Regions from separate parts of the Homo sapiens genome. Here region 1 is linked to region 2. The links come from fine-mapping of genetic effects on gene expression. Tissue or cell type: whole blood. Region 2 holds a variant in brackets; the other region holds the start of a gene. All regions are shown on one strand. Distances are between the middles of the regions.

The links. PIP is the estimated chance that this variant, and not a neighbour inherited with it, causes the effect.
Region 1: it holds the start of FUCA2, and the variant in region 2 is fine-mapped to the expression of FUCA2 in whole blood (INTERVAL, PIP above 0.99).

The regions. Positions count from the first base shown.
Region 1 is chr6:143,509,965-143,514,127 of GRCh38, reverse strand. FUCA2 (alpha-L-fucosidase 2) reads left to right here and starts at 2,408. Exons shown (of 7, transcript NM_032020.5): 1 at 2,408-2,717. The coding sequence starts at 2,494. It overlaps LOC105378035 (a long non-coding RNA gene), which reads right to left and starts at 2,343. Exons shown (of 4, transcript XR_007059796.1): 1 at 1,352-2,343; 2 at 1-1,134. RefSeq lists enhancers at 1,448-2,108, 2,130-2,309, 2,420-2,549, 2,109-2,771 and a silencer at 2,972-3,175.
Region 2 is chr6:142,943,593-142,947,755 of GRCh38, reverse strand. It overlaps HIVEP2 (HIVEP zinc finger 2), which reads left to right and starts at 2,580. Exons shown (of 10, transcript NM_006734.4): 1 at 2,580-2,657. HIVEP2-DT (HIVEP2 divergent transcript) reads right to left here and starts at 1,267. Exons shown (of 3, transcript XR_001744397.3): 1 at 1-1,267. RefSeq lists an enhancer at 1-50 and silencers at 91-500, 1,081-1,300, 1,351-1,980, 2,211-2,440, 2,641-2,740 and 1 more. The variant G/C (reference allele first, on the strand shown) is at 1,837.

The DNA of each region.
Region 1 (4,163 bases), 570 kb before region 2:
GGCATAGTGGCTGAGAAGCCCATATTTTTGTTCAAGTGTGCCCCAGGGTTCAGTGGCCACTGAGGCCCTAGATCATTCTGGGTTCCACAAACTCAATAATAAATATTTGTCAGCCCAGGCACCGTGGCTCATGCCTGTAATCCCAGCACTTTGAGAGGCTGAGGCAGGAGGATGACTTGAGATCAGGGGTTCAAAACCAGCCTTGCCAACATGGTGAAAATACAAAAGTTAGCTGGAGGTTGGGGTCTGTAATCCCAGCTACTCGGGAGGCTGAGACACGATAATTGCTTGAATCCCCGGGGGTGGAGGTGGCAGTGAGTCAACACTGTGCCACTGCACTCCAGCCTGGGCAACAGAACCAGACTCTGTCTCAAATAAAAAAAAATTGTCATCTTTATCACAAACTGGAGCTATTGCAATTGGATTCGTTGAGCCCTTTCCTCTAGAACACCCTCACTGTAAAAAAACAAAACAAAATTGGGGACTCTTACGGTGGAGCTGTGGCCCCGGGGGGCCATCTGGCATGTCATGGAGAGGAAAAATGCCCCTACACCTGCAGTGACAGCGCCCTCTGCTGCTCCCATCTCTCTGCAGAGATGGGTTGGGATAATGCAGGCAACAGCCACTTAGTGTCAAGTTCTTCACTCAATAATTAGAACCCCAGTTCACTGGAGAGCTTCAACAAACATTTTGAGTGCTGCTTTTCTGCTGTAATTGTAGGCACTACAGAAAAGAAGGTCATTATGAATGCCCTCAAAAAGCTCACAGTCTGATGGGAAATCAGACCTGTACCACCTAGCTACTAGAGGATGCGTGAAATCCTATGTGTGCTTGGAAGGAGGTGTTATGAAGCAGATCAGGGAAAGTACAACATTCTGGGAGGGAAGGGTGGTGGCAGAAAGCTTCACAAAAGAAGCAGCATTTGAATTGGCTCATTGAAGGGTAATGATTTCATGGGGGCAGAAGCAGTTGAGGATTCTGGCTTTACTTTGAAAACACTTACGAGGTGGAGGAGAGGCTGGGCTTGGTGGCTCATGCCTGTAATTCTAGCACTTTGGGAGGCCAAGGCGGGCAGATCACCTGAGGTCAAGAGTTTGAGACCAGCTTGTCCAACATGGTGAAACCCTGTCTCTACTAAAAAAGAAAAGAAAAATACAAAAATTAGTCTGGCACAGTGGCATGTGCCTGTAGTCCCAGCTACTCTGGAGGCTGAGGCAGGAGAATCCTTGAACCCGGGAGGCAGAGGCTGCAGTGAGCCTAGATCATGTTACTGCACTCAAGCCTGGGCGAGAGAGCGAGACTCTGTCTCAAAAACAAACAAACAAACAAACAAACAAACAAACAAACAAACCAAACAAGAGGTGGAGGTGATAAGCTTCCCAAATATCCTTTTGATTAATCTTTCCAAGTTGCTGGCCTTTTTTCCCAAGCTTGCAGGTTTCTTAAACATTCATTCCACTGGTTTCACCTGTCTCAGATCATCTCCTTGTTCAATGCAGTGGTTCTCAGGAAAGTTTGGACCACCAATCAGAAACATCACAATTTTGTTTTCTTTCTTTTTTTTTTTTTTTTTGAGATGGAGTCTCACTCTGTAGCCCAGGCTGGAGTGCAGTGGCACCGTCTCTGCTCACTGTAACTGCCTCCCGGGTTCAAGCGATTCTCCTGCCTCAGCCTCCCGAGTAACTGGGACTACAGGCGTCCGCCACCACGTCCCGCTAATTTTTTGTATTTTTAGTAGGGACGGGGTTTCACCGTGTTAGTCAGGATGGTCTCGATCTTCTGACCTTGTGATCCGCCCGCCTCGGCCTCCCAAAGTGTTGGGATTACAGGAGTGAGCCACCGCGCCCGGCCCAACATCAGAACATCCTAGAAGTAGGAACTGGGTAGAAACGCAAATTCTTGGGCCCCAACCTAACTGCTGAATCTGAAGCTCTTGGAATTTCATCTGATACAAATTCAAGGTTGACAACCACGGTTCTAACATGCAGGATCTTGGGAGCTGATACAGAGGCCGAGAAGGATCTAGGTTGCTTTCCATGTTCCATCATGGCGAGACCCGGCTGAAGTTCCTGCCTTGACCTTCTCGTGCACGCTTCGGACGTGTGGAGCAGCCACCAGGGTGGGCTGGGGGCATTGTCTTCTTGGGCAGTTTCTTGGTCAGGGTCGTGTCTGCTTGAGGGCAGAGGCGCTGGCCACAAGGCCCTGACTCAGACTCATATTTTCCCCTCAAGAGGACAGAGCCTTAGCAAAGCCGTCCCAGCTGGCTTTGGGGTAATGCTGGCCTTAGTTATGCTGAGCGATGCAGCCCTCCTGAGGTCATTCGGAACGCCCGGGAGAGTGGCCACTCCCGCCCCAGAGGGGGAAGGGTGGCCGGTTTCCAAGTCCGACTTGGTCAGGTGACCGCGGCGCGGCATACTCAGCGGCAGAGACGGAAGAACAGCGCTCCCGAGGCCGCGGGAGCCTGCAGAGAGGACAGCCGGCCTGCGCCGGGACATGCGGCCCCAGGAGCTCCCCAGGCTCGCGTTCCCGTTGCTGCTGTTGCTGTTGCTGCTGCTGCCGCCGCCGCCGTGCCCTGCCCACAGCGCCACGCGCTTCGACCCCACCTGGGAGTCCCTGGACGCCCGCCAGCTGCCCGCGTGGTTTGACCAGGCCAAGTTCGGCATCTTCATCCACTGGGGAGTGTTTTCCGTGCCCAGCTTCGGTAGCGAGTGGTTCTGGTGAGTGCGCTCCCTTTTGTCTCGTCTGCCGCGCTTTTGTCCCCACCCGCAGCCTCCAGCCACCACCCAGCGGGCCTGGTTCGCCGCCTGGTGCTGCCTGCACCCTCGTCGGTTTCACCTCCCACTGCGTTACCCGCGTTTCGCACTTCCGGGTGTCGAATATGTGGTTTCCTGCCTAAGTGCTTCTGCTGGATGAACAGGGAATTTTTCTTCCGTGTGACTGTAAGAGTTTTCAGATACTCCTGACTCCTCAGCTTCTTCATAGTTGCGCATATTAAGCTGTAGTTATGACACTACAACATCGAGCTACTACAGACATTCATCAGTTTGTGCAGGGGCATCACACGAGCGGTGACTCAGGCACAATGGCCTATGGTTGCTCTGCTGCTACCTGCCAATTTACAGTCGTTCTGCCATGAAGTTATGGTTAAAACATAGTCATGAGTATGTGAAACGACTGTTCATTGAACACCATTGGCTACTTAATGTTAACATGTTACCCATGTGTGGCTCTAGGAACTTTTTAAAGAGGTTCTAGAATGGTACTCTTAACACAACCCAGTTATCATACTGCCGTATGAAAGGTGCTACACAAAAATCTGTGCGTTAGATTTTACCTTGAGATCTATGTGAAAATGTGCATGTAATTTCTTAAACTGTTGCACATGTCTTTTCTGACTAAATGCTACAAGTATTAAGTCCTTCAAAACAGAAATATTTTGTGTGCATATATAGAAACATACACATAATATATTCTTTTTTTTTTTTTTTTGAGACATAGTCTCATTCTGTCACCCAGGCTGGAGTGCAGTGGCACCATCTCGGCTCACTGCAACCTTCGCCGCCCGGGTTCAAACGATTCTCGCGCCTTAGCCTCCTGAGTAGCTGGGACTACAGGCGCACGCCACCATGCCTGGCCAATTTTTTTGTATTTTTTAGTAGAAACGGGGTTTTGCCATGTTAGCCAGGCTGGTCTTGAACTCCTGACCTCAGGTGATCCGCGGTGGCTCATACCTGTAATTCCAGGACTTTGGGACACATAATATATTCTTAAGTAAAAGAACGGAATCATTAAACAGTATTTATTTGAATCAACTATATACTACATAAATAGTATACATCCAAATTAACATACTATATTTAGTAGACACAATACAGAGTATGAACTATATATTATATTAACATTACATAGTATACATGGTACCATGCTCTACTCTAGGGGTAGAAAAATTACACCTCCATTCTGTTAGGGTCTCTGCTGGGTCCAAGAATTAAATTGACATTGTGTGACTAAATTATGTGGGGAGACTTAAATAATAAATTTTAGCAAGTTCTGTACAGTATTCTACTTCTTGTCTTTGAAGCTTAGGATGTTGCCTTTCCTTCTAGTACAGAGTGCCTTTCATACTGGAATTTCATCTTCTCTCCTAAGAAACAGCACAAAGG
Region 2 (4,163 bases):
ATACCTGCTTTAAAAGCAGAACCACAGTTATTGTCTTTGGCCCGGAATTCCAGAGACTCATTTCCACCCCTCCCACGGAGTCACCTGCTCAGGGGGAACCCCGGCCAGAAAGCCGGGTCGCGCCAGGTCAAATCTTGCGCGTCTCTTGTTTACTCCGCCCCGGGCAGGGCGGCGGCGCGGCCAGGGGGTGGGGAGGACCGCTGGGGCCCGCGGCGTCCTGGGCGCTCGGCTCTGCTCCGCAGGGTGCGGGGGCTGGGGCGCCCGCGAGGTGCTGCGCGCGGTCCCCGCTGGGGGGGAGACCACCCGGAGGAGGCGCTCCGGGACCCGGCCCCCCTCCCCAGCAGTCACTCGTCGCGCTCGGGCACCGTGGCACCCTAGGAACCTCCCCCGAGGGTGCACACCAGTCCACATAGGCAGGGTAACGGCCCGAGAGAGCCCCGGTGTCCCCCGGGTGTCGCCCGGCCGGGGAGGAAGCCCAGAGCTTCGGCTCCCACTCGCCTGGGATTCCCCCGCCTCCCGGCCCCGCTCTCCCAGGGTTGGTTGTGATTTCAACTCCGGTCCCTTCCGTGGAGAGGGAAGCGCACAGGCTGAAGGTGGCAGCTCGCCCCGAGGTTCCAGCGCGGCCCACCAGGAAACCGGCAGCTGCTCTTCGCGCCGCTGCCCACACCTATTTGAATCCCCTGGCGAGGGCGGGCCGCGGTCCCCGAACTGGGGGTGCCGGGGGCACCCTGGTGAGTGACCTCAGGGAAGGTAATCCGGGCGTTTCGAGCACGTGAATAGTTCGCGCGCCCGCAGGGGCACGGAAAGTGCTAGTAAAACCCTACAAAGCTCCAGAAACCCAGCCGGGAGCCACAGTCTGATTTTGCTTTTCTTGACCGATAACATAATTGTGAGTAGAGGCAGGGGGCGAGGAGAGGCCAGGGATCCGGAGTACTGGTTCCAAATCTAAGGGCACTACTAATTATACAATTCCGTTCGTCAGGAAGGCAGACAACGATTCTCTGGGAAATGGGGAAGGGGTGGGGACGGAGGACGTTTCCACATCCTTAAAGGAAATTCTCAGGCTCCTAGAGATGCCCAAGTTTTTTTGCATGACAAGTAGAGACCAGCTCTCCGGGGAGTTCCCCGCTCCGACCGAGCGAGTGCGCGGCCGCGATCTCCCCGCCCGCAGCGGCAGCCGTGGGGCCCGGCCCTGCCCTCCCGACCGCCTCCCTCCCCCGTCGCCCCGCGCGCCGCACATCCCTCTCTCGCTCACTGGCTCCAGACTGGTTTTTCTGGTTCAGCCTCCCTCCCTGGGACGCGCTGGGGGATCCGATGACGTCGTTGGCTGAGTCTCTCCCTCTTCCTCCCTCCCTCCCTCCGCCTCTCCCCCCGTCCGCCCTCGCCGCGCACTCCTCCTAGTAACTTCTGTTCGGGGAGGCGCTGCCAGGAATAACCCGGTGCGTCCACAGCCCGGGAGGGGAGGCGGCCGCTGCGGCTCCCGCACGCAGACAGCTGCGGCCCGGGCCTCGCGGCTCCCGCCTGAGCCCGGCGGCCCCTGCCCCGGGCCCATCTCCGTACAGTGTCAGAAAAATAAATAAAGGCAAGAGGAGCCTGGGCTGGCGGTCGGGATCTTTTCCCTCCCTCCGCGCCCGCCCTCCCTCTGTCCTTAAGGAAATGCTACCAGACACCCCCCACCAGACACGCTCAGCCTTGGCGAGGAGCGGCCGCCGCGGCAGCGAGAACAAGGGCACCAGGGGGGTTTCCTCCCCCTCCTCCTCTCCCTCCTCCTCCCCGTCCTCCTTCTCCTCCTCCTCAGCGGTGACTTTCCAGGTGAGCGGCCGCCGCGGCTGCGAG[G/C]ATCCCCCTCGCCCGCTGGGGCTCGGGCCGCCGCGTCGCGCCCTCCTCCCGCCCCTGTCACCCGGCGGCGGCCGGGAGCTGACAGCCGCCCGAGGGGCTCGCGGCCCGGAGGCGGGCGGCCGGCGGGAGGCGGGCTGGAGGTGAGGGGGTGGAGAGGAGGAGAGCGGGGCGCCGCCGAGCGCCGTCGTTCCCCGCAGGAGGGTCTCCGCACAAACATCTTCGGTGACTGTGGCACAAGTCTTTGCCAAGTTGTGTCTTGGACCTTGACGCTCCACGGAGCCCAGAGCAACTTGGAGGGTCTCCCGGCTCGTTCACAGCGTTCCTCCACGTCTCGCGTCTGGGGTGCTGGGTGCAGCCTCGGGGTGCGCGGAGGGCGGACCGGCCACCGCGAGAGCGGAGCGGCGGGAATCTAGGTCCCTCCTCGGCTCGGTAAGTGGCCTGGACGCTGGGTTTTTCCTGCCTCCTTCGGCGCTGGGAGCTTGTTTCACTTTATATTGGAATCGCCGCCGCCGAACTCCGTCCCCCGCTCCCCGGCGTGTGCCCCCAGCCCCTTCCCGGTGGCCCGAGGGTGAGGGTCGGAGGGGGCGGGGATGGGGGAGACCGCGGGAGGGGTGTCGGGCGCGTGGGGAAATGCGGGGAATACCCTGGCCGCGGATCTATGCAGATGAGGGGAGGCTGCTTTGCGTAATGTCCTGGGGGGAGGGGGCCGCGCGGGAGCGCTGGAGGCAGGAATGTGCCTGCTTACTAATGAGCGACGTGCACCGGCGCGCACGGCCCGGCCACCGCTGCGGCTGCGGCGGCCGGCGGCGGCCCGTTGTCAGGTAGCGGGGGAGGGGGCCGCGGCGCGCGGCGCAGGCGGCCGGGCGGGCTGGCGGCGCGAGGCCCGGGCCGCCGGCCTGCGGCCGAGCGAGCGCAGCGAAGGCGCTGGCTCTGGGCATTTCAGTGACTCCCTTTACCTCCCGGGCAAGGAAGGAAGGAAGGAAGGAGCGAAGGAAGGAAGCGAGGAAGGAGGGGACTGTCTCGATGGAAGGTTCAGGCGGAGGCGCCCTCGCCTTGCGGGTGCACCGGCTGCAGAGCGGCTCTGGCCGCTGCCGGCTGGACCCGGGCGCGTGGAGACGGGTGGGGGCGGTTTGCATGCGTGTTTGTCTGTCCGTCTGGCGGGGGATCGGGAAGGGACATGTGTGTTTGGGCTGTGCACTGTGGGGAACTGGGTCTGCGCCTTTATGTCTGTTCCCTGAAGTGGGTGGAACGTTGGCCCGTTCCGGGAATGTTCCATGACGTGGTGCAGCCACAGGAAGGGGGTTAACGAGGGGCTCTCTGCCGCGGCGGCACTGCCGGCTGCTATCAAAGCAGATGTGCTGCTGCTGCTCCTCCTCCTCTTTCACCTCCTTTCACCCCCACCCCCCGCCTTTCCATTCTGTGCCTCTGGTACTGGTAGGGGTGAGACAGGAAAACATTGCTCTGGGTGTGTGCGTGTGTGTGTGTGTGTGTGGGTGTGTGGGGGAGGGGGTGCTGATGTGCATGTGTGGGGTCTGTCGTATTTGGTGGGGGGGGGGGGTGGACTCCAGATCCGCTCTGCTACCCCAGCTGTTATCACAGATCGGTGCGCTTTATACGCATGTGCCTCCCGCGTTCTGTCCCTCTTACATAACACATCCAGTGCAGCAGAGGACATGAGAAAATGCGACCCCAACCCTCCAAGCCCAAATTGGGTGAGGGGATAGAAGGTCAGGAAGCGTCCCTGGGTGTTGTCCTTCAGGGACTTGGTTCCCAGTGGGGGAAAGGAAGAAGGGAAGGAGGGTTTCTTCAAGTGGCTCCTCTCATCTCTGACTTAAAAGCATCTAACTAAAAAGGACTGCAGGCACTAGTCTTCCCTAACGGGAAAGCTTGTAACTAGCTACACCAAGGGAACGGGGGCACTTTAACCTCGGGAGTGCGGAGAAGAGAGAGGGTCCTTAATCAAGACACTTGGAGGAGAGAAGCAATAATGTGTGGGCGGCGGATGGGGGGCGCTGGGGATGACTTCGAGGAGACCAGAGGAATCTCTTGATAATAGGTTTCACTGGAGGCCTTAGGACACCTGTAATGGCTTAGCATTCACACAGGAAGTTGTGTGTGCAACTGACATTGCAAAACCCTTATTCTCTGCAGAGTTATTTAGGCCTAAAATGAATATAGAAAGGCTTGTTTCCTGTACTTTCATTATAATGGAAAATTTGAGCTGATTTTTCTCCTTCCTTTTCTGCCATTTTAAAAATAACTCAATTTACCTCCAAATGAATATTGGTACTCGCCCCCAACCCTAAAGCTGGACCTCAATAATTCAC